7 linked regions of the Homo sapiens genome follow. The protein of the gene in region 1 purifies or fractionates together with the protein of each later gene. This does not show direct contact. Each region holds a gene or a part of one and is shown on either strand. Other genes may lie near its edges. The genes, in order: SNRPA, HNRNPC, NCBP1, SF3A1, RNPS1, PRPF6 and SNRNP70.

Region 1 (3,500 bases):
CCTTGGTCTGTCTTCCTACCCTTCTGCCAACTGTATATCATCCTGGTTGGTTGCTGCAGGTTTTTTTTTTTTTTTTGCACATGGACGTGGTGGCATGTGCCTGTGATCCAGCTACTTGGGAGGCTGAGGCAGAAGATCACTTGAACTTGAGAGGCAGAGGTTGCAGTGAGCCGAGATTGCACGACTGCATTCCAGCCTGGGGAGACAGATTGACTGAGACTCCCTCCCGAAAAAAAACAAAAGAAAACAAAACAAAACAAAAAAGAGACAAGGTCTCACTCTGTTACCCAGGCTGGAGTGCAGTGACAAAACCACTGTTCACTGCAGCCTTGACCTCCAGTTCTCAAGCGATCCTCCCAGCTCAGCCTCCTGAGCAGCTGGGACTACAGGAATGAGTCACCACGCCCAGTTTTCTATTTTATTTTTTGTAGAGATGAGGTCTTGCTATTTTATAGAGGCTGGTCTTGAACTCCTGACCTAAAGCAATCCTCCTATCTTGGCCTCCCAAAGTGCTGGGATTACAGGCATGAGCCATTGGGCCTGGCCTGGTTGCTGGAGCTTCCCCTGGTCATGCAGGTCCTGGTGCTTTATTCTCCTCGCCTGGCTTGGCCTTGTCTTTCCACACATTTAGAAAGAGCCAATCAGTGTCCAGTGTTTACCGAAATTCCTGGTGGGATTTTGATTGCAATCACGTTGAATCTTCAATTAATTTGGATGGAACTGACCTCTTGACAATACTGAGTCTTCCTATCCATTGCTGAGTCTCTGATTTCTCCCAGCTACATTCTGTGATTTCAGTGTAGTCGTTCTGCAAACCTTTTGTTGGATTTACCCCTCAGTGCTACTTTTCAATGTGAAGTCTACTGGTCTGTTACTGGCATATAAAAATAAAACTGGGGGCCAGCCATGGTGGCTCATGCATGTAATCCTAGCACTTTGGGAGGCTGAGACAGTGAGTTTGAGACTAGCCTGGGTGATATGGCTAAGCCCCGTCTCTACAAAAAATGCAAAAGTTAGCTGGGTGGAGTGGCACGGACTGACAGTTCCAGCTGCTAGGGAGGCTGAGGCGTATCACTTGAGCCTGGGAGGCGGAGGTTGTAGTGAGCTGTGATGGCGCCACTGCACTCCAACCTGGGTGACAGTGAGACCCTGTCTCAAAACATAATATGAATAAATAAATAAAACTAATTTTTTTCCATATTGCCTTTATATCCAGCGATCTTTCTAAATTTAAGTTCACTTATTAATCCTAACAGTTGCTTAGTAGACACTTGGATTTTCTACATGCACAATGAGTTACAAGACACAGGCGACAAAATCAAGGCCACGGAGAGAGCGAAACCAAGTCATAGCCATGAAGAAAGACCTTGAGAAACAGTCACAAGGAGGGAACAAGAGTTTCGAAAGGAGATAGCATCATCTAGGTGCTCAATACCCCCCAAAAGAGAGAGAGAAACACATCTCTATAAAGAAATGGAAAGGAGGGGTCTGAAGCCCCAAGGGGAGAACTCTCCCCACCCTGTCCCAAAGCCAGTCCATGTGGCTGAGGAAGGTCTGGCAGTGGGAGGGTTGGTCTCCGGGACCTGGCTTACCGGGACAGGCCCCTGGACAGCCCCCACCACGGGGGTGGCTCCCCCGCCTTGCACAGCCTTCTTGGTGGCCGGGGTCTCCTGGCTCTTGGGCTTCCTCTTCTCCCGCTTGCGGTCCCGCTCCACGAAGGTGCCTTTCATCTTGGCAATGATATCTGAGTCGGTCTTGGCATACTGGATACGCTACCAAACAGAGAGCAGAACGGGTTAAGAGCGTGGATTCAGAGCCCAATTGCCAAGATTCAAAATTGGACCTTTATCAGGGGCCAGGTGCTGCGGCTCATGCCTGTAATCCCAGCCCTTTGGGAGGCTAAAGCGAGCAGATCACTTGAGGCCAGGAGGTGGAGACCAGCTTGGCCAACATGGCAAAACCCCATTTCTTTGTTTCTTTTCTTTTTTTTTTTTTTTTGAGACATTGTCTTGCTCTGTCACCCAGGCTAGAGTGCAGTGATGAGATCTCAGCTGACTGCAACCTCTGCCTCCCGGGTTCAAGCAATTCTGCCTCAGCCTCCCTACTAGCTGGGATTACAGGCGCCCACCACCACGCCTGGCTAATTTTTGTGCTTTTAGTAGAGACAGGGTTTCACCATGTTGGCCAGGCTGGTCTCGAACTCCTGACCTCAGGTGATCCACCCACCTCGGCCTCCGAAAGTGCTGGGATTACAGGCATGAGCCACTGCGCCTGGCCAGGAAACCCCATTTCTACCAAAAATACAAAAATTAGCTGGGCATGGTGGTGCGCACCTGTAGTCCCAGCTACTCAAGAGGCTGAGGCAGAAGAATCGCTTGAACCCAGGAGGCGAAGGTTGCAGTCAGCTGAGATGGCACCACTGCACTCCAGCCCAGGCAACAGAGCAAAAAACAAAAAACAAAAAACAAACAAACAAAAAAAAATTCAGACCTTATCAGGAGCTTACTGAGAAACACAGAAATATCTTGGCCTTAACTTCCTTGTCTGAAAAATGGGGATTATGATACTTCCCACTTCAAAGGACTGTTGTGAGGACTAAATGAGTTAAAGTGCTTGGAACAGTACCTGACACACAGTAAGCAAGTGTTCAGTAGAAAGGCTGTTGGTATTTTTAAGGGAAGCTGGAACAGCAATAAACATCAGGCCAAAGGACCGAGGAGACAATGCTAGGAGAGGAGTGCAGTGCAGGGGGATTTCCTGTCACACAAGAATACTTCAGTCTTCCAGGTTCAATCTCACTCACTTAGCTGTTTAAGGAGAACCTGCCAGATGCCAGGCGCCATTCAAGGCTCTGGGAATAAAGCAATGAACAAAATAGACAAAAACCCCTCTTTCATGGTGCTTATTCAGTAGGGGAAGGTATGTTAAAGATTCTTAGTGTGGCACAGTAGCTCACGCCTGTAATCCTAGCACTTTGGGAGGCTGAGGCAGGCAGATCACTTGAGCTCAGGAGTTTGAGACCAGCCTGGGCAACATGGCGAAACCCCGTCTCTACTAAAAATAAAAAAATCAGCCAGGTATGGTGGCACGTGCCTGTAATCCCAGCTACTCAGGAGGCTGAGGCAGGAGAATCACTTGAACCCGGGAGGTGGAGGTTGCAGTGAGCCAAGATTGCACCACTGCACTCCAGCCTGGGCAACAGAGGAAGATTCTGTCTCAAAATAATTTATTTATTTATTTATTTATTTATTTATTTTTTCTGAGACAGAGTCTCACTCTGTTGCCTAGGCTGGAGTGCAGTGGCAGGATCTCGGCTCACTGCAATCTCTGCCTCCCGGGTTCAAGCAATTCTCCTTCCTCAGCCACAGGAGTAGCTGGGACTACAGGTGCATGCTGCCACACCGAGCTAATTTTTGTATTTTAGTAGAGACAGGGTTTCACGGTGTTGCCCAGGCTGGCTGCAAACTCCTGAGCTCAGGTAATCCACCTGCCTCGGCCTC
Region 2 (3,500 bases), on another chromosome or scaffold:
GTACACTGGAAGGTCAGGCATTTTGTTTAAAGAATTGATTCTAAGGCCGGGTGTGGCTGCTCATGCCTGTAATCCCAGCACTTTGGGAGGCTGAGGCGGGTGGATCACGAGGTCAGGAGTTTGAGACCAGCCTGGCCAACATGGTGAAACCCCCATCTCTACTGAAAATAAAATTAGCTTGGCGTGCTGGCGCTCGCCTGTAGTCCCAGCTACTCGGGAGGCTGAGGCAGGAGAATCGCTTGAACCTGGGAGGTGGAGGTTGCAGTGAGCCATCGCACCACTGCACTCCAGCCTGGGCGACAGAGTGAGACCCCATCTCAAAAAAATGATAATAATTGATTCTAAACTGGGGAATAGAGAGATTCCCAATTTAAAATCTTCACAGTGGTTCTCAAACGTTAGCCAACACCAGAATCAATAGGGCTAGTTAAAACAGATTGCTATGATCTCTACCACAAGGGTTTCTAATTAAGTAAGTCTGGGGTGGGCCCTGAGAGTTTGCACTTCTAGTAAGTTCCAGGTGATGATGCTCATGCATCACTCATTCTGAGAGGTGCCCCTTTAGAAGAAGGGATCCAAACCTCAGGCAGGTTTTGACAAAGAATAACCTAGAGATACTTTTTTTCTAAAACTATCTCTGAGCTTTAGGTAAGGATACTTTTTTTCTTTGAGAGCCTCACACTGTCACCCAGATTAGAGTGCAGTAGTGTCATCTCAGCTCACTGCACCCTCTGCCTCCCGGGCTCAAGGGGTGCCCTCAGCCTGCTGAGTAGTGCTGCTAATTTTTTGTATTTTTGGTAGAGGCAGGGTTTCGCCATGTTGCCAGGCTGGCCTTGAATTCCTGAGCTCAGGTGATCCACCCGCCCCAAGCCTCCCAGAGTGCTGGGATTACAGGTGTGAGCCACGCCGCCTGGCCTCAAGGAATATTCTTGATTGAAAATGGTGCTAAAGTTGGTCTTTTTATGAGTGGTAGCTCTTCAGTTTAACATAAATAACATCTTGGGAGATACTGAGCTTTTTGATATTGAAAGATAGAATTGGTTTCTTTTCACATTTTTCTTTATTTTTAAGCTTATGTCTTGTGGCACCTGTACAAAGGACTTGGTTGTGGTTGAGCTATAAAGTTATGTATCTTGAAAATTGATTACCAGGTTTGGGCTGTGGCTCCAAATAAGAAAATGAAATGTTTCACCATAACTGTATTTCATAAACAGGAAAAGAACATTCAGATGTATATTTCTTACAATTCTTCACAAACTTTTTCCGCAATTTGTACATTCATACAGTTTTCACACATCAAATGTAAAAATTAACTGTCATTCCTACACTGTTCTTTTTAAAAATGTATGGTACTTGTTGCTGCTGTAGTCATTCATGTATAGTTGGCTCAAGGAACACTTCTAAAAGCTCAATTAAAAATTTTTTTTTTGAGACAGGGTCTCTCTCTGGCCTGGCTGAAGTGCAGTGGCGTGATCAGAGCTCACTGCAGCCTCGAACTCCTGGGCTCAAGTGATCCTCGCTCCTCAGACTGCTAAGTAGCTGGGATTTCAGGCTACCACACCCTGCTAATGTTTTTTGTTTTTAATAAAGTCTCGTCATGTTTCCCAGGCTGGTCTCAAACTACTGAGCTCAAGCCGTGCTCTACCCTGGCCTCCCAAAGTGTTGGGATTACAGGTGTGAGCCACCACACTTGGCCTTAAAATATTTTAATTTCCTCAAATTTACAAAGGAGAATAAGACCTCATGGCTAAATTGAACAGTGAGTGCAGCTAGTTCATTGTTTGCACAAGGAACTACAGTCTAATTGCAGTTCCTATTTTAGCTGATGAAACAACCAGTTTGTCATGGAAATTATTTTAGTGTGGTATTATGTACCAGATTTTTAGAATCCATAACTTGAAATTAGCTTTACACGCTACATAGTAAATAGTGGACTACAGAAACAAAAGTATTAACATAAGGACCTTAATTTTTTTCACCTATTTTATGACCTTAAATATTCAGTATTTTTTTAATTCCATCTGTATTTTCGTTTTGTCAGTGAGTGGAATAATGTGCTCCTTATTTAAAACATCTTTTCCCCTAACAGTAGAACCTATTAGGTCTTGTGGTTTGATCACTCACTGGTTTTGAGAATAGATGAGTCATCTCTAGTATAGATCTTCATGGTAGGCCATTCACCTTCAGTCTATTACTCATAGCAAAAACTCCACGGACTTTTTTAAGTTTAAAACCCATGAATCTGCTTAGGTTTTATAATCTCAGTATTTGACATTTGCTCACTATTTCATCTCTATTTGTTGGCCCGGTTTTTCTGTATTTTCTTTGCCCAAACTGCTCATTATCAAGATGAACATTTGGGATATACTCTTTTTGAGACCCTCAAGGGCATATTGACATGAATTTAGTTAATTTTAGTCATCTATTGATGTTGAAGAATTGTGAAGACAGTCACTGGTAGAGGTGATTCTATGGAGGCTATCCCATCCCAGTGGAATGTTAATGCTTTACCAAAATGTGTTAGCTGCAGTAGACAGATGTTTCTGTCTTGGGGGTTTAGGGCACAACATTTCTGAGGAACTCTGACTCAATCTGTCCCTTCTCCTTTCACAGGGCAGCAAGGCGAACCCCATCCCTACTCACTGGAGCTCAGCTTTGATTTTTAACCTCCCTTCCCCACCCTTCCAGAACACACACATTCCATTCCAAAACTGATTTTATAAAGACATTTTAAACATAATGATGCAACTTGGTGTGCACTACAGCAAATGTACAGGTGTTTTTTTTTTAATTGTTTCCAAAACCGGGACCTGGATTTAAGATGTAATTTTTAAAATTTCTATTTCTATTTTTTCTGCAGCAGTTGGGTTAGAGGAGGAGGAGCCTTTTAGCCTCTCATAAACTGACCTCTCTACTTCCTCGTGTATTTTTAAGATTGATTGATGATGTGGAAAGGGCTTTGCTTGTCTGCTACTGAAAACTTTATCCTTGCGGTTTTTGTGGAAACTGCTTTTGGAAAGAGAAAAGAAATGAACTTTACTGACTTGACATTTTTGCACCTCCCGTTTTTCTAATCTGGGCTATTTTTATTTTTGTTTTTTTACAGTGAGATTTTTTTGATCTTCAGCTACAGTAAGTTATTCCAATTTTTTTTTAACATTTTTCCTGACTTTCCGCTGATTTCCTTTTTATTGTTGTTACTAGTTACTATTACTTATTATTATTATATTAATACTTATGATGGTGATGATGATGATGATAATGACACTGATGATTTTTAACCGGATTAAAATCGAGTTTTTCTGAATGTTTCTAAGAATTTCTCCGGCCTCCTGATTGACTTTGGAGTTTTGCATCTTGGGAGAGAAAGCGAAGGCATTAGTATTTTTAAGTGGTTTGATCACGTAAACCTTTTCTCTCCCAACCCCACCCTTGCCCTCATCCCCTTCCCCACACTGAAAAGAATTTTACTGGCTGTTAAGTCTATGACCTTATTTTTC
Region 3 (3,500 bases), on another chromosome or scaffold:
CTATGAGGATTATTTATTTTGATGCCCAAATTGTCCCTGGTATGTACATGAGGAGCCCCGGTAAGCTCTCTCTCTCTCTCTCTCTCTATATATATATATATATATATTTTTTTTTTTTTTTTTAACGTCCCCAGCCATTCATTGAGCATTCCCTTATTTTCTAGAACAACATATTTAGGATCATCTTGCGTTTTCTTGCCCTATCACTGGAATCATCTATTTATTCATGGAGCCCTAGTTTCTAGTAAAGTAGTAATGGAATATGGTATTTAGGAGCCAAGATCTGGGCACTTGATATGCTCATTGCCATTGGGGTGTCATTGGTTCTAAGCCTCTTGGTGGACACACATCCATCCATCCATAACTGTTTTTATGTCCACCTGTGTGTATATATGCCTCCAATTCCAACTCAATACCTTATTTCTACACTTCTTCTCTACCATGATTTGTAAACACCTTCTCAGGCAGTAACAAACTTGGCTTCCATTATCCTCAATATTTATTTATTTGATAGAATATAGCCAGTTTCCAAAGCGTGCAGTCATCTCCACCATGCCCCATCATCACCCCACATACTTGGCCACCAGGCTCATGAGCTCACTCACCCGCACCTCAGTGCAAGCCAGTGAGTTTTGCAGTATGCCTGAGATTTGGTGTGCTGGCTTAGACAAAAACTCAAAGGATTTTTTTTTCCCTTTCACTTCTTGGTTGTCAGCTGAGTTCAAGTTGTTGGAGATCATGACTTTCCAGGTAAGTCGGGTGTTACCGAAGAATGGGACTGATAAAAGATATTTTCTGAGGCTGTTATTTGTATTGTAGGTTGTCTTACCATCAGCGTATATTAGATATTGTTCCTCCTACCTTCTCAGCTCTGTGTCCTGCAAACCCAACCTGCATTTACAAGTATGGAGATGAAAGTAGCAGTAAGTAATGAAACTAATCCCTCTGTCTTTAAAAGGTACCAGTTCAAGTATATCTGAAGTTAGTTGTTTAAAGTGGAGAAATTGAACTTTTTCTTTTCTTGGGGTTTATATTTCCTGTATTTGAAAGGTGGTCTATCATTAGCCACTGTTTTATTTGCCCTGTCATCATTTTGAGGATTTGGTTGTGATAAAATTAATTACTACTGGCTTATCATTTTTTCTCTTTTGAATGTGTTAAGTATAGCAAGATGAATTTATAGTTAGAACTTACTAAACTGAAAACGTGTATTTGTCATGGTGATGGAGGTTACTTGAATTCATTATCTTGTTCAGGTGTGGTATTGAGAACATAGATGCACATATTTGTGGCAGTATGCCTTTAAAAGTAAATTCTTAATTATGATTTTCTTACCTTTTGGTCACATAATCTCTGAAATTGCACCATAAATCAGGGAGTGTAATTTGATGTGCCATTTTGCCCTTTGCATAGTATTTACACTTAATGAAGGTAAAGTATTATACATTGTTGATCACTGGTAGAGTTAGGTGTGGAGTTTTTCCAACTTGTTCTTTGCAGATTACACTTAACACAGCCCCTCCATGATCCTTCCATTTTGTGTTGTGTAGAGGTTCTTTGTATCTCACAACTTTCTGCTGTTCTTTGCTTTTCATACTGTGTGCCTGTTTCTCCACCTCTGTCTCTGACTGTACCTGTTTTCCTTGAAATGAACTGTGTCGGTCCTGGTACATTTCCTATTTCATTATGTCAACTCTGAAGAATAGATATGATTATCAAAACTACAATGAGGAAATGACTTCCAAGAGGTCAAGCTAGAATGAGATTGCTTTTGAGTGGTGGAGCCCAAATTCAGGCGTAGGTGCACTAACTGAGTGGCCATGCTGTTAGCCACTGTGCTTTTTGGCAGATCAAAGGTTTATGCAGTACTTAGAAGTGCTGGGTTTTGAGTTTTGTCCTGTACTGGTTCCGAGAATGATAAGGTGTAGTCTTTGCTATCAGAAAGCTCAGGCTTTTGTTGAAGATTAAGCTTTCTTTTTGCCCCATAGGAATAACTCCGCCTAACATTCAAGGCCTTCATAACCATTGTTCCTACTTTGTTATTTTTCACTTCTCCCCACATGGACCTCTATTTCTGCCAGGTCCATGTACTTTTTTATTTTTTCCATACTCCCTGTTCTTGACTTTGCCATTACCCCAGTCTGGAAAGCCCTTTCTAGCTCCACTTCCTTTTCTCCTTCTAGATTCTAGCCCAAGCTCAATAGCTGTAAATATTTTTTAACCGTTAGCAAGCCAGTTTTGTATTGCTTCCTGGCTGTGTCTAATGTGAATATCTTGGTTCCCCAGCTAGAATGTAGACTGGTGACAGGGGATTCTGTTTTTCTTCGCCTTCTTTTTTTTAGAGAAAAAGCTCACAGCAGGTGTAATATGACTGTCCTCACATGACTGTTGTAATTTACTTTATTCATTCCAGTAACTCATACTCTATAACAGGATTGCCTTTTTTGTTACCTCTTTGTCTACCTTACATTAAAAGCAGATTTCTTGTTGCTCTGGTGATGCCTTACGGTGTATATTAGCACAAATTTTTATAATAAGGACTCAACTGATACCAACCAATAGTAAATACAAGGAGTCCCATCACGTGAGCATCTGACTTACGTAGATTCAAGCTTGTGGACTCAGCAAAAAAGAAAAGTACAAAAACAAAACCTCTCTGAAGTTGGCAGCCATTACCTTGTTGAGACTCAGACTTCATTTCCACGGTCCCGAGGAAAGAAAGAGGAAGTGGGTGTTGGCAAAATGAAAGAGAAGTACGTTGGTTCTGGGATTTTGAGCCCAGGAGAGTTGAGGGCATTAAAAGACAGTTTAACTGTGTCCACTTTTCTCCTTACCATTCATCTTGAGGATGATCAGCACCTTGTGCTCTAAATTTTACTTAGCTAAGTGTCCTTAATGAATTGTTGAAATGAGAATTGTCCCTTTTTAGGTGAAAAACCATTAACCTATTAGAAAAAGCTTTCACATACGGTATTTATATGTGATTAAATATTGACCTTGGGATAAAGAGCATCCTATTTTGAAAGGAAGAATTTAAAAAAAATTTTTCTCAGTTATTTAACTGTTCATTAGAATAGTCTTGAAACCTGATCTGTCATTCCCCTTACCCCCAATTCTGTGTTTAGATTCTCTTCCTGGACATTCTGTTGCCCTCTGTTTAGCTGTTGCCTTTAAAAGTAAGGCAACCAATGATGAAATCTTCAGCATTCTGAAAGATGTACCAAATCCTAACCAGGATGATGACGACGGTAAGTGGAATTCAGTATTTCTTAAGTGGAACTATGTATAGGCCAACTTAAAGCATAAACATAACTCTGGCAACATGATGCTCTTAAAGCAATATATCTATATCTGTTTGACCTGTTCAGACTGTTGTTCTTAGCACCCCAGGTATTTTCCCCTTATATAAAAAGAGATCCTAACATTTCTGTGATATAGCTTACTTAAGAATATAAACTTCATCGTAAATACAAAGTGAAATATGTTACCATTCAAGGATT
Region 4 (3,500 bases), on another chromosome or scaffold:
GGAACATGGTTTCTCAGAATGTAGTCGGAGTCCCTGCATCTGAATCACCTGGGCATTTGGTAATGTAGCAGGACGAGTCGCAGACAAAACTCCTCAGACACCGGATTAAAGAAGGAAGAGGTTTTTTATTCATCCGGGAGCGTCGGCAGACTCGTGTCTTAAGAGCCGAGCTCCCCGAAAAAGAAATTCCTAGCCCTTTAAAGGGCTTACAACTCTAAAGGTCTATGTGAAAGAGTCATAATAGATCAAGTAAGCGTGAGGAACGTGACTGGGGGCTACATACATCAGCTAACAGAACAAAAAGTTTTACAGTGCTTTCTCATACAATGTCTGGAATTTACAGATAACACCAGTAGTTTTGGTCAGGGGTTAATATTATTATTATTTTAACCACCAGGGCCAGGTGGTGGCACCAAGGTCGTCTAGCTATTTATCTTACTTCTGTTTCTTTCCAACTTTTTGCTTTCTCCCTTTTCTCCTGTCTTATAAACTAGGGAAAAGGGGAGGTTGGGGAGAAACTGGGAAGGACAACAGGAGAAGTGCTGGTCTCATACCATAGTAAAAATGCAGATTCCTGGTCTCACTGAGATAGTCCAGTGAGAGAGGAGCCAGGGAAGCTGCTCTTCTCCCTGGGTCCCCAGGAGCAGCCCCTGCAGGTGCAGTGAACTTAAGAGAACTGCTTTTCTGAAGTAGAGGGTTCTAACCTGAGGGAAGTCTGTGAATGAAAGTCTACTCTGAATGATATCCTAGAGGAGTTTTACAGTGGAGAACCTGCTCTGAACCAGGGACTTTAAAACCTTATTTCTTTTCCTGTTTGCACAGCCCACAGAAGAAGAAGCATCTTCAAAGGAGGATTCTGCACCTTCTAAGCCAGTTGTGGGGATTATTTACCCTCCTCCAGAGGTCAGAAATATTGTTGACAAGACTGCCAGCTTTGTGGCCAGGTAACAGAGCTACTTGGGTGGGTCAGAGGTGGGTTTCAGCATGAAGAGACTTCAGCACTGAATCAGCACAAGGGTTTTTAAAGAGACGTTGTTGGCTTGGGCCTTTTAGTTCATAAAAAACCACAACATGGCACTGGGGTAGGCAATAGGTAGGACTGGTGTCCCTGACACAGCATAGCAGTGGCCAAAGTGAGAATCACACTTAGCCCCACAGTCACCAGGAGCCTCTGCTTCTAAAACTGGCCTGAGGAAATGCCTGGAAAGCTGCTTCATCACAGATGGTGTGTGTCTGTGCCTGAGCTGCTGGCCTGAGGAAGATAAAAAGGGGAGTTTATTATTCTCATTGTACAAAGACCACATTCCAAGAGCCTCAAATGACCCATCTGCAAAATGGAAAAAATGCCATCTCAGAGTTGTTGTGAGGCGGGAGTGAGGTCATGGGGCTGCATGCAGTTCAGTTCCACGCGGGTGCTAGTCACCTCCTCAGATGGCATGGGCATTGCTCCGAGTTCCTCCTGTCTCTCCTCACAGTTCCATGCAGGTGCTAGCCGCCACCTCAGATAGAATGGGCATTGTTCCGAGTTCCTCCTGTCTCTCCCCACAGTTCTGTGCAGGTGCTAGCTGGCTTCTCAGATGGAATGGGCATTGGTCAGAGATCCTCTCTCTCCCCACAGTTCCATGCAGGTGCTAGCCGTCTCCTCAGATGGAATGGGTATTGCTCTGAGTTCCTCCTGTCTCTCCCCACAGTCCTGTGCAGGTGCTAGCTGGCTTCTCAGATGGAATGGGCATTGGTCAGAGATCCTCTCTCTTCCTACAGTTCCATGCAGGTGCTAGCCGCCACCTCAGATGGAATGGGAATTGCTCCGGGTTCCTCCTGTCTCTCCCCACAGTTCCACGCAGGTGCTAGCCGCCACCTCAGATGGAATGGGAATTGCTCCGAGTTCCCCCTGTCTCTCCCCACTGTACTTACCCTCACATCCTTAGATGGAATTTTTTTACTGGCCCCTTGACTCCAAAGGTCAGTACATTCTCTAGGGTATTTAAGGTATTCCTTTGGCAGCCCTCAGTCCATGTCCAGCCTACAGATGTTTTGTTTGTCCTCACAGTAATTTTTTCGAAACTCAAATTTGTTGCTACTATTTAAAAATGAGGAGGTCAGGTGCTGTGGCTCTTGCTTGTAATCCTAGCACTTTGGGAGCCCAAGGTGGGAAGATCACTTGAACTCAGGAATTTGAGACTAGCCTGGGCAACATAGTGAGACCCTGTCTACAAAAAATAAAAAGTTATCTGGCTGTGGTGGCATGGGCCTGTGATCCCAGCTACTTAGGAGGCTGAGGCAAGAGGATCGGTTGGGCCCAGAAGGTTGAAGCTATAGTGAGCCATGGACTCTAGCCTGGGTGACAGTGAGACCCTGTCTCAAAAAAAACAAAACAAGTAAAAATGAGATTTCACAATCAGTCTGGATTTCTGGACAGTTCCTTCATGTGTGGAAGCAGGCCCAATCAGCATGTGTTCTCCAGGGACCACGTCACCCCCCTGAGGCAGTGTCTCAGTCAGTATGCATCATTTAACGGATGGTCCTTCCTTTCCCAACCTAATAAAATTAGACATAAAGATTACTTTGGTTAGACTTTCTTTTTTTTTTTTTTAAATGACATGGAGTCTCACTCTGTTGCCAGGCTGGAGTGCAGTGGTGCAGTCTCAACTCACTGCAACCTCTGCCTCCTGGGTTCAAGTGATTCTCCTGCCTCAGCCTCCCGAGTAGCTGGGACAACAGGCGTGCGCCACCACGCCCAGGTAATTTTTGTATTTTTAGTAGAGACGTGGTTTCACCGTGTTGGCCAGGCTGGTCTCAGTCTCTTGACTTAATGATCCCCCGACCTGGGCCTCCCAAAGTGCTGGGATTACAGGCGTGAGCCACGGCACCAGCCTACTTTGGTTAGACTTTCACTATGTCAGCTCTGCAGATTCATCTCATTACATTTCAAGGGCTTTGATTACCTTTGAGTATTAGGTTGAAAGCTTCTCTGTGCTTGATTGAACATTGTGATGATGTTGATTGGGTCATGTCAGATTTAGACAGTGTTGTGTTTAAGATAAATGTTTAATGGCTCTTAGCAGTGTTCATGCCTCCCCTTTTCCCCTGATACTTTAAAAACAGAATATACAGAAAAGGGGAGTTGGGTGAAGAATCACCATATTCTCATTACCAGAGTAGTGTCTACCAGCTGTTTTCACATTTTTCTGTTTCCTTCTGTCCTTGGAATCCTTTTTTTAGATCCTTGTAATACTAGTAAAGATATTCCACTCTGTGTTGTAAGCATTTTTCCATTTTGCTCCATGGTCTTCATAATGCCCTGTGGTCCTTTATTAAGGGGATGCACCATGTAGAGGTGAAAGGCTTTCCTTGACTTGGCCACCATTTCTGTATTTTCCTTAGAGGAGGAGGTTTCCAACATTTCTTTTTTAGAGACAGAGTCTCGTTCTGACACGCAGGCAGGAGTGCAGTGGCATGATAACAGCTCACTGCAGCCTTGAACTCCTGGGCTCAAGTTA
Region 5 (2,753 bases), on another chromosome or scaffold:
GCTGTGTTGGTGCAACTCTAGGGCGTCTCCTGCCTGTGGCTTACTGCAGCTGTGGCCCTCCTGCTCTCTCCATGAGCTCTGAAGGGCTCCTGCTCTCTGCCAGCCCGCACAGCAGTGGAAGGCAGGCAGGGCTGAATAAAGGGTCTGAAAGTCACTGCGGTCACATGAGGTTTGTGGCCTGATCAGTCCACTGAAACTACAAATTGTTTACCTTCTCCTCATCCGTGGGGGAGACCTGCGCCACATAGGCGGTGGTGGCAACATTCTCCTGGGAGGGCTGAATCTCCTGGGGGGTGGCCTAGGCCAGGGGGCCAGCACGGCGGTGGCAGTGATCTCCTGGCCATCAATTTGTCCTGTTGAAAAAGACAGCAAGTCATAAAATATCTAACAAGCATCTACCCTAGACAATGCATGCCACAGTGAAAGACAGGCCTGGGGGGACAATGACAATGTAAGATAATCACAGAAACAGGGCCGGGCATGGTGGCTCACTCCTGTAATCCCAGCACTTTGGGAAGCTGAGGCAGGTGGATCACGAGGTCAGGAGATCGAGACCATCCTGGCTAACATGGTGAAAATGTCTCTACTAAAAAGACAATAAATCAGCTGTGCGAGGTGGCGGGCGCCTATAGTACCAGCTACTCGGGAGGCTGAGGCAGGAGAATGGCGTGAACCCGGGAGGCAGAGGCTGCAGTAAGCAGAGATCGTGCCACTACACTCCAGCCTGGGTAACAAGAGCGAAACTCCGTCTCAAAAAAAAAAAGATAATCACAGAAATAACATCATGACTAATGTTTCATGAGGAAAAGAGGCATAAAAACTAACAGGACACACCAATCTCCACGTGTCGAGGCAGCCTCCCAGGTCAAGAGTCATCCAAGTCAAGAGCTAAAGAATGTGCTGGAGGCCAGACGCGGAGGCTCACGCCTGTAATCCCAGTGCTCTGGGAAGCCAGGCAGGCGGATCACAATGTCAGGAGTTCGAGACCAGCCTGGCTAACATGGTGAAACCCCATCTCTACTAAAAATACAAAAATTAGCCGGGCGTGGTGGCGTGTGCCTGTAATCGCAGCTACTCGGGAGGCTGAGGCAAAACAATCTCTTGAACCCAGGAGGAGGAGGTTGCAGTGAGCTGACATCATGCCACGGCACTCTAGCCTGGGCAACAACTGAGACTCCGTCTCAAGAAAAAAAAAAGAAAAGTAAAGAATGTGCTGGAATCTGCTAGGTGGAAGAGAAGGGCTATGCTGGGCCCTGTGCTGGGAAGGACCCAAAGCACTGGTGAGAGAAGGTAGCATCGAGAGCGAGTGACAGGCAAACAGAAGGCCCCAGGGCCAGGGTGGGGCTTCCTCGCAGGACCATGCAGGCAGTATCCGCGTTTGCGCTTCCTTCTCCTCCAACCAAGGGAAGCTGGGTCTGGGGCTAAGAGAAGTGGGAGAAGTTCTCTTAGGAGGGCTCTGCAGCACTGAGAGGGGCCTGAATCAACATCAAATGATTTGGCAGGGAAACGGAAGGATTCAGGGGACAGCTGGGAAGTAAAATTGCCAGAGCTTGGTGATGGATGGGATGGGGGTGGTGAGGTGTGAACTTCCACTGACGGAGAGGTGGGGCTGCGGTGGGAAGCTGCATGAAGGAAATTTTAGGAGATGCCAAAGACTTTGTGTTTGGAAACAAGCAGTCTCAGAGAGGTGGCTCTGCATGTAGATGGCACTGAAACACACGCCATGTGCATGAAGCGAGGAGAGGCAGTGTGGGATGTGGGCTCCAGGGAGAGAGGAAAGGAAATAGAGGTGCAAACCCAGGAACCCCAGGGGAGCATGCACCCCGACCTCAAGAATTGTCTGGTAGCTGGGGATACTGGGAGCCCAAGCGCAGCCCCTTCTGTGCCCTAAGGGGTAAAGGGCTCTTTTGTTTTCTCAACTACCTTTAAGGCACATGGGGACTAACTCCGGCATGTGGCTATGTATTCAGAACATACTTAAGAGGTTTAACTTCAGTAAACTCAGCCTAAGTTAGCCCAAATTAGGGATTTCACAGCACTGACTCTATAATAATGAAGAAAAATCCATCTTCTGTGTAGCTGCCAGTAAAGGCCAACCCCTTCTCATCTCCTATGGAGACAGCATGGACTCACTCCATTCAAAGACAGAAGGGGAGACACACAAAAAAAATCCTACCAGAATCTTACGAAAAGTTGGAATGTCTGTAATCACGCCCACCCAGAAGGTACCCGGGTCCCCTGGGTTTTTAGCTCAGCAAGCACTCAGACTGTCAAACAGCAGATAATCAGCAGACTCCACAGCAAAGGTGTGACTTACAAGGCCAACAGCTGATGTGAGCGCACAGAGCTCCTAACCCATTTCAGGACTTAAGAAACTTGAAAGAAAAGTTAGCCAAATATCAAGGAAACTTTCCTAATGCCTGAAGGGCAATTACTGAAAAAAACCAGCTAAGCTACTTATACAGTTTGTAACAGGGCCTCGGAAGACGGAAAGTTCTGGGGCACGCACACTCCACTCCCCACCAGGCCTGGCAGCCCAGACAGCACTGTGGGCTGTGTTCTCAGTGCCAGCGGCCTCAGTCACAGCAGCAGGGAGTGGAGCAGAGATGACTCCACATGCCTCAAAATGCTGCACTGAGGACAAAATGCCACCCGAAACTATTCACAAGGGTCCATGTGCTTTTAAAACCATTCTGCCAGATACAAATAGCTATAAACGTCATGAGTGGTTATGAGATACAAGTGTTTAAGAA
Region 6 (3,500 bases), on another chromosome or scaffold:
ATGGTGGCCCACGCTTGTGGTCCCAGCAACTTGAGAAGCTGAAGTGGGAGGATCACTTGAGCCTGGGAGGTTGAGGCTGCAGTGAGCTGTGATTGTGCCACTGAATCCAGCCTGGGCAACAGAATGAGACCCATCTCAAAACAAAAGTAAAAAACAGTTGCTGCATCCAAATCCCTTCTAAAGCTTGGTGATCTGGAGGCTAGGGGTGAGAGAGGGCATGGTCCTACCTGGGCACATGAAATTCTGTCAGAGAATTAATGTTTTTGGGGGCTGGATATTTCCAGAGGAAGTTGGCAGAAGTCACAGAAGAAGAGTGGCTGAGCATCCCCGAGGTTGGCGATGCCAGAAATAAACGTCAGCGGAACCCACGCTATGAGAAGCTGACCCCTGTTCCTGACAGTTTCTTTGCCAAACATTTACAGACCGGAGAGAACCATACCTCAGTGGATCCCCGACAAACTGTGAGCTTCCAAAAAAGGGCACATGTGGCCCATTTAGTCCTGTTAGATCAGTGGCAGGAATGGTGGGTGGTGTTGGATTCAATGCTTCTGCAGGTCATGGCTATGCTGTGGCCGAGTCTGTCTGCACAGCTGTGCATATGTCAGGCCACTGGGGAAGTATTTCAGAGAGTAAATTTCTTGGGCATGCAGTGCAAACCGTTGTTTTATTCTTGCCTTTCCTCTCTTCCCCTCCAGCAATTTGGAGGTCTTAACACACCCTATCCAGGTGGACTAAACACTCCATACCCAGGTGGAATGACGCCAGGACTGATGACACCTGGCACAGGTGAGCTGGACATGAGGAAGATTGGCCAAGCGAGGAACACTCTGATGGACATGAGGCTGAGCCAGGTGAGTTTGTCACACAGCATTTTCCTGTGGACAGGTTTAGACAGTTTAATTTTGTTTTGTTTTCTTTTTCTCCTTCTTCTTCTTCTCCTTTTTCTTCTCCTCCTTCTCCTCCTCCTCCTTCTTCTCCTTCTCCTTTTTTTTTTTTTGGCTTGATTTTTGCCTGAATAATTCCGCAGATTTTTAAAATTTTGACCCAGAGTCTTGCTGTGTCACTCAGAGGCTGGAGTGCAATGGTGTGATCTTGGCTCACTGCAACCTCCACCTCCTGGGTTCAAGTGATTCTCCTACCTCAGCCTCCTGAGTAGCTGGGATTACAGGTGCCCACCACCACACCCGGCTAATTTTTGTATTTTTTGTAGAGACGGGGTTTTACCATGTTGGCCAGGCTGGTCTTGAACTCCTGACCTCAGGTGATCTGTCTGCCTTGGCCTCCCAAAATGCGGGGATTACAGGTGTGAGCCACTGCACTTGGCCTTTTTTTAAAATATAAAATAATAATTTTTTAAAAAGTGTGTTTTTTTCCTGCCTCTCAGTAAATTGTCTTGTGGCCCTGCATGGAACGTGTACTTTGATCTGGAGACTAGGTGCTCTAGACACCAGTGAAGTACAGAACTCTTTCTGATATGCATATCAGATACCACGAAGGAACATACTACTTTTGGCCTGGCCAACATGGTGAAACCCCGTCTCTACTAAAAATACAGAAATTGGCCAGGTGTGGTGGCGGGCGCCTGTAATCCCAGCTACTTGGGAGGCTAAGGCAGGAGAATTGCTTGAACCCGGGCGTTGGAGGTTGCAGTGAGCCGAGATTGCACCAGTGCACTCCGGCCTGGGCAACAGAGTGAGACTGTCTCAAAATAAAAAACAAAAACAAAAACAAAAAGTGGCACAATCATGGCTGGCTACATACAGCCTTGACCTCCCTGGGCTAAGGCGATCCTTCCACCTCAGCCTGCCAAGTAGCTGAGATTACAGGCATGTGCCACCATACCCAACTAATTTTTGTATTTTTTGTTGAGATGGGGTGTCACTAGGTTGCCCAACCTGGGCTGGAGCTCCTGGGCACAAGTGATCTGTCCGCGCTGGCCTCACAAAGTGCTGGGATTACAGGTGTGAACTACCATGCCCAGCCTGAAATTTGTTTACATAGAAATTGTAAAACTTTTTGGGCCAGGCACTCATGCCTGTAATCCTAGCACTTTGAGAGACCAAGGTAGGAGGATTGCTTGAGGTCAGGAGTTCAAGACCAGCCTGGGCAACATGGTGATGGTGAGACTCTGTCTCTACAAAAACTAAAAGAAATAGCTGGGCCTGGTGGTGCCTGTAGTCCCAGCTGTTCGAGAGGCTGAGGTGGAAGGATTGCTTGAGCTAGGGAGTTTGAGGCTGCCATGAGCTATGATCGCGCCTCTGCACACCAGCCTGGGTTACGGAGTGAGACTGTCTCAATAAATAAATAAAACTGTCACAGTAATTTTTTTGTGGTAAAATATATGTAACACAGAATTTACCATTTTAATCATTCTTGACTGTACATACCTTCACTGACATAATTATGTTCATGTTGTTATACAACCTCATCACCATTCATCTCCAGAACTGTTTTCATCTTCCCAAATTGAAACTCCGTACCTGTTAAACATTGAGTCCCCGTGCGCTTTCTCCCCAGCCCCTGGCATCCACCGTTCTCTCTGTTTCTATAAATGTCACTACTCTCTGGATCTTATATGACTGGAATCATACAGTATTTACCTTACTGTGACAGGCTTATTTCAATTAGCTCATGGTGCAGCATGCGTCAGCATGTTCTTTTTTTTTTTTTTTTTTTTGAGACAGAGTCTCTCTCTGTCACCCAGGCTGGAGTTCAATGGCATGGTCTTGGCTCACTGCAGCCTCCGCCTCTCGGGTTCAAATGATTCTCCCACCTGAGCCTCCCAAGTAGCTGGGACTACAGGTGTGCACCACCAAGCCCAGCTAATTTTTTTTTTTTTTTTTGAGACGGAGCCTGGCACCGTCACCCGAGCTGGAGTGCAGTGGTGTGATCTCGGCTCACTGCAACCTCCACCTCCTGGGTTCAGGTGATTCTCCTGCCTCAGCCTCCCGAGTAGCTGGAACTATAGGCGTGTGCCACCATGTCTGGCTAATTTTTGTATTTTTAGTAGAGACGGGGTTTCATCATGTTGGCCAGGATGGTCTTGATCTCCTGACCTCGTGATCCACTCGCCTCAGCCTCCCAGGATGCTGGGATTAGAAGTGTGATTTTTTTGTATTTTTAGTTAGAGATGGGATTTCACCATGTTGGCCAGGCTGGTCTCGAACTCCTGACCTCCAGTGATCCACGTGGCTCGGCCTCCCAAAGTGCTGGGATTACAGGCATGAGCCCCGGCGCCCCGGCCAGCATGTTCTCAGTTTAAGGCAGGATGAGACTTGACTCTTTGGTGTGTGTGGACCGCATTCGCTCATCTATGTAGACCGCATTCGCTGACCTGTTTATTCGCTGACGGACACTTGGACCACTTTCACCTTTTGACTATTGTGAATAATGCTGCTGTGAATACGGGTGTACAGATATTTGTCAGAGACCCTGCTTTCTATTCTTTCTTTTTTAATAAAAATTTTATTTATTTTTTTTTGAGACGGGGTCTTGCTCTG
Region 7 (3,327 bases), 8.3 Mb from region 1:
TGAAATCTCAATTGCTGGTGGAACCTCTTCTGTGTTTCTGCTCGTTGCTCCTCTGTCACTACTTATTATGATGTGGGTCCACCCTTCCTGCTCTGCCCCGTCTCACCCGTGCCCAGTGTATTCTGCCTTTCCTCACCCTGTGTGCCGCTCTCCCTTGCAGATGGTAGCTTCCCTTGCATATTCAAAACTGCGGCTTCCCCTGAGTAATCAAGCCCCCTCCTAATTCCCAGCCCCCCACCAAGACAGGGGTATGGTCAGCCCTGAGGAATGTGTGGCAGAGATGAAAAAGAAAAAAGGGTGAAAAACACAAGGGAGACAAGGAGCCCGAGAGGCCGCCTCACCCCACTTTCAACAGCTCTGGCTACTGGGCAGAGCCAGCCTCATGTCCTAACGCTCAAGTTTTAAGTACACCCTGGAAACCAAACCAAGCAGGGCTATCAAGTCAGGAACAACCTTCTGGGGAAAACAGAGCAGTGAGGAAGAAACCGAGGTGCCCACTATCAACAGGAAATTAATTTTATTTTTAAATCCAAGGGGCCAGAACAAATGAGACACCTACCCTTGGAGGACAAACTCAAGTGGCCAAGGTTGGGGGAGGGGATGACAGCAAGGGGCTGGGCAGGAACGCGTCCAAACACAGCAGATGGAGAGGACGACCTCTTCACTCCGGCGCAGCCTCCATCAAATACCCATTCTCCGGAGCCAGGTAGCCGTCGCCGCCCTCAGACTCCATGTACATGTCTCGGCTGTCGTTGCCCAGACCCTCCAGCCCGTTGTCCTGGCCACCGCCCCCACCTCGGGCCTCATCCCTGCCCCGCTCACTGCCCCGCTCCCCCCGTTTGTGCTCGCGGTCACGGTCACGGTCACGATCCCGGTCCCGGCGCCGCTCGCGCTCGCTCCGGTGGCTCCGCCGTCGCTCCCGGTCACGATCCCGGCCCTTTTCCTCTGGACCGTCAGGGCCGTCAGGCCCGAGCTCCCCTGGAGGCCCATCATCAGGGGGCGCGTCACCCGCCTCGGAGGGCTCCGCCATGTCGCCACCGCCGCCACGCAGCTCCTCCTTGCGCTCCCGCTCCCGCCGGGCCCGCTCCCGACTCCGGCTGCTTCGCCGCTTCCGGTCCCGGTCCTTGTCCTTGCTCCGCTCCCTGGAGCGCCTCCGCTCCTCCTTGTCGCGACTCCGTGAGCGCCTCCGCCGGTCCCGGGAGCGGGAGCGTCGCCGTTCTCGCTCCTTGTCTCGCTCCCGGCTCCGCTCTCTGCGCTCCCGCTCACGGTCCCGGTCCCGGTCCCTGTGCGGAAGCGGGGAGGGGCCGGGCCTGGATGAGGTGGGCAGACCTGTGTGGCTGGGCTCCCCCCGTGACCGCCCCCCACCCCAGGACACCGGTCGCCCAATCTTACCTCTCATCGTAGCGGGAGGTGTCATCGCGGCCTGAATGCCGGATGTTCACATCAGCCCCTCCTCTTCTGGTACCACCGAGGCCTCCTCCTGGGGCAGGGCAGACGGACAGAGGGTGAATCTGGGCAGGGACAGGGCCCGGAGGAGCAGAAATGAGCCGACTCCAAGAGCAAAGGGCAGGAAGGCAGCCCCTGGCTTAGTGTTCACAGGGCCGGGTCCCCCCGTGCAGTTCATCCCGCGCACTCCCATCACAAGACAGCCACGTCTTCTCTAATTAACTCACACAAAGCGTTCGCTAGGCAACAGCCGTTACTGGAACCCATGTCTGGCCCCAAAGCGCATCATCTTAACCATAGCGCACTTCACAGCCTCCTCAAAACCCTCCCTTCCAATCATCCTCGCCCTCACAGAAACCCGAAGCCAATGATCTTTCCACCCAAAAATGTGATCTGCTTAGAAGCCTTTGCTGGCGTCCCCCAGCCTAAGGTCCAAACTCCTCGTCAACTGGTGGTAGAGGCAGCAAGAGCGGGCCCTGCTAGCGTCTGAGCCGCGGCTCTTGGCTGCGTGTCCCAGGCCTTTCCCAGTGTCCCCACGCTCACCTTCCTGCCAGTGTCTGTGCATTCTCCTTGCCCTGGACTGGTCTCCCCTTCCTTCTCTGGTGAACTCACGCTCACCCTTAACGCTAGCCCGAACATCCTTTCTCGGGAAGTCTCTCCTCACAGTCCTATGTACTCACAGTTGCAGAAACGCTTCCTTCCCCTGGAGTTTCAGGTTTGCTACCTGAGTCGACCCCTACCTGCCTCTCCCACCAGACTGCAGGGCACCGGAACCGTGGGCATGCCCAGCTCTTGCTCACGGTACCAGCAGGTGGCGCTGCAGCTGGTATAGAAAGGTGGATGTGTGTGTGTCAAGTGAATAGATAGATGAACAGCCCCAAGGCACAGATGATAACCTCATGGTTCTGATGGGGAAACAATCTCAGATCAAGTCACTGGCCCACAGTGACTCAGCAAAGAAGGTGCAGAACTGGGCTGTCACTGCCGTCTGCTGCAAAACCTGCCTTCTCAAGCGCTCCTCTATCTCGCACTGCCTGGAAAAGCTTCCGTGAGGCAGGGCTGAGTTCTGTATAGAAAAGAGGCTGCAGGGAGACATTCTTATAGAAGCAGGCAGCGGACCAGGCACCTGCCATGTCACAGGCACAGGGCAGCTAGACTAGCCTTTCCTATATTCAGGTCATGACCCAGAAATGAGTCCCATCATCAATCTGATGGGTTGCAACCAACATCTTAAGAAACAAAACAGCAGAATACAACTATATACTTACTACATAGAAAAAACTGTTTCCTCAAACTTTAGGTTACAGTATTTCTGCGGGTGCACCGAGTCAAGATGTTATTGGCTAACACCAACAAAAAGTTTGAATGGCAATTGAACTAGAAGATTCTGAGATTCTGGAAAGACTGAGATTCTAGCATTTTCCCGCCCCAACAGGAAACAGCAGAGCTATAAGAACCCACTCCACCCCAGAGAGACCAGAGTAAGGTAAGAACATGCCTGGTAAGCTCCGAGGCTCAGCAGCTGAGAGCGTGGTCTCCCTAGCACAGGCGAGTCCAGAGCCAGGACACAGGGCTGGGAGGCAGGACAGGAGCCCCAAGTGGCTACTACTGCCTGGGTGTCTGCCCAGGGACCATCATCTTCTCTGACAACTGTCACTCAGCTTTGCAGGATTCAGTCCTCAATAAGCATGCCTGAGCAACAGGACCCCAGGCCCAACACTGAGTCAATCAAATGTGCCCACCCCGAAACAAGAGACTCATCCAGGACTGAGTGTAAAGCTGGGGCCTGTGGCCTGCTGCGCTGGGCCAGTGCAAAGAGGCATGGGACCGACCTAGCTGCATGGAGGCAAACGAGGCAGAAGCAAGCTGTGGGCTGTCACA

The links.
Region 2: the proteins of SNRPA (region 1) and HNRNPC purify together in Homo sapiens (affinity purification with mass spectrometry; 2 studies listed by BioGRID and IntAct, with this or other methods). This does not show direct contact.
Region 3: the proteins of SNRPA (region 1) and NCBP1 purify together in Homo sapiens (co-immunoprecipitation; 2 studies listed by BioGRID and IntAct, with this or other methods). This does not show direct contact.
Region 4: the proteins of SNRPA (region 1) and SF3A1 fractionate together in Homo sapiens (co-fractionation; 3 studies listed by BioGRID and IntAct, with this or other methods). This does not show direct contact.
Region 5: the proteins of SNRPA (region 1) and RNPS1 purify together in Homo sapiens (co-immunoprecipitation; 4 studies listed by BioGRID and IntAct, with this or other methods). This does not show direct contact.
Region 6: the proteins of SNRPA (region 1) and PRPF6 purify together in Homo sapiens (affinity purification with mass spectrometry; 2 studies listed by BioGRID and IntAct, with this or other methods). This does not show direct contact.
Region 7: the proteins of SNRPA (region 1) and SNRNP70 purify together in Homo sapiens (affinity purification with mass spectrometry; 5 studies listed by BioGRID and IntAct, with this or other methods). This does not show direct contact.

The regions. Positions count from the first base shown.
Region 1 is NC_000019.10:40,757,703-40,761,202, reverse strand, and holds part of SNRPA (U1 small nuclear ribonucleoprotein A), read right to left. Parts: intron 1,773-3,500; coding exon 1,593-1,772; intron 1-1,592. UniProt on the Homo sapiens protein: Component of the spliceosomal U1 snRNP, which is essential for recognition of the pre-mRNA 5' splice-site and the subsequent assembly of the spliceosome. U1 snRNP is the first snRNP to interact with pre-mRNA.
Region 2 is NC_000014.9:21,262,943-21,266,442, reverse strand, and holds part of HNRNPC (heterogeneous nuclear ribonucleoproteins C1/C2), read left to right. Parts: exon of another isoform or gene 1-50; intron 51-894; exon of another isoform or gene 895-3,106; 5' UTR 3,107-3,132; exon of another isoform or gene 3,133-3,500. UniProt on the Homo sapiens protein: Binds pre-mRNA and nucleates the assembly of 40S hnRNP particles. Interacts with poly-U tracts in the 3'-UTR or 5'-UTR of mRNA and modulates the stability and the level of translation of bound mRNA molecules. Single HNRNPC tetramers bind 230-240 nucleotides.
Region 3 is NC_000009.12:97,657,821-97,661,320, forward strand, and holds part of NCBP1 (nuclear cap-binding protein subunit 1), read left to right. Parts: intron 1-819; coding exon 820-923; intron 924-3,125; coding exon 3,126-3,248; intron 3,249-3,500. UniProt on the Homo sapiens protein: Component of the cap-binding complex (CBC), which binds cotranscriptionally to the 5'-cap of pre-mRNAs and is involved in various processes such as pre-mRNA splicing, translation regulation, nonsense-mediated mRNA decay, RNA-mediated gene silencing (RNAi) by microRNAs (miRNAs) and mRNA export.
Region 4 is NC_000022.11:30,350,395-30,353,894, reverse strand, and holds part of SF3A1 (splicing factor 3A subunit 1), read left to right. Parts: intron 1-822; coding exon 823-944; intron 945-3,500. UniProt on the Homo sapiens protein: Component of the 17S U2 SnRNP complex of the spliceosome, a large ribonucleoprotein complex that removes introns from transcribed pre-mRNAs.
Region 5 is NC_000016.10:2,255,374-2,258,126, forward strand, and holds part of RNPS1 (RNA-binding protein with serine-rich domain 1), read right to left. Parts: intron 354-2,753; coding exon 212-353; intron 1-211. UniProt on the Homo sapiens protein: Part of pre- and post-splicing multiprotein mRNP complexes. Auxiliary component of the splicing-dependent multiprotein exon junction complex (EJC) deposited at splice junction on mRNAs.
Region 6 is NC_000020.11:63,994,632-63,998,131, forward strand, and holds part of PRPF6 (pre-mRNA-processing factor 6), read left to right. Parts: intron 1-284; coding exon 285-461; intron 462-695; coding exon 696-851; intron 852-3,500. UniProt on the Homo sapiens protein: Involved in pre-mRNA splicing as component of the U4/U6-U5 tri-snRNP complex, one of the building blocks of the spliceosome.
Region 7 is NC_000019.10:49,105,778-49,109,104, reverse strand, and holds the end of SNRNP70 (U1 small nuclear ribonucleoprotein 70 kDa), read right to left. Parts: intron 1,481-3,327; coding exon 1,393-1,480; intron 1,311-1,392; coding exon 662-1,310; 3' UTR 501-661; downstream 1-500. UniProt on the Homo sapiens protein: Component of the spliceosomal U1 snRNP, which is essential for recognition of the pre-mRNA 5' splice-site and the subsequent assembly of the spliceosome. SNRNP70 binds to the loop I region of U1-snRNA.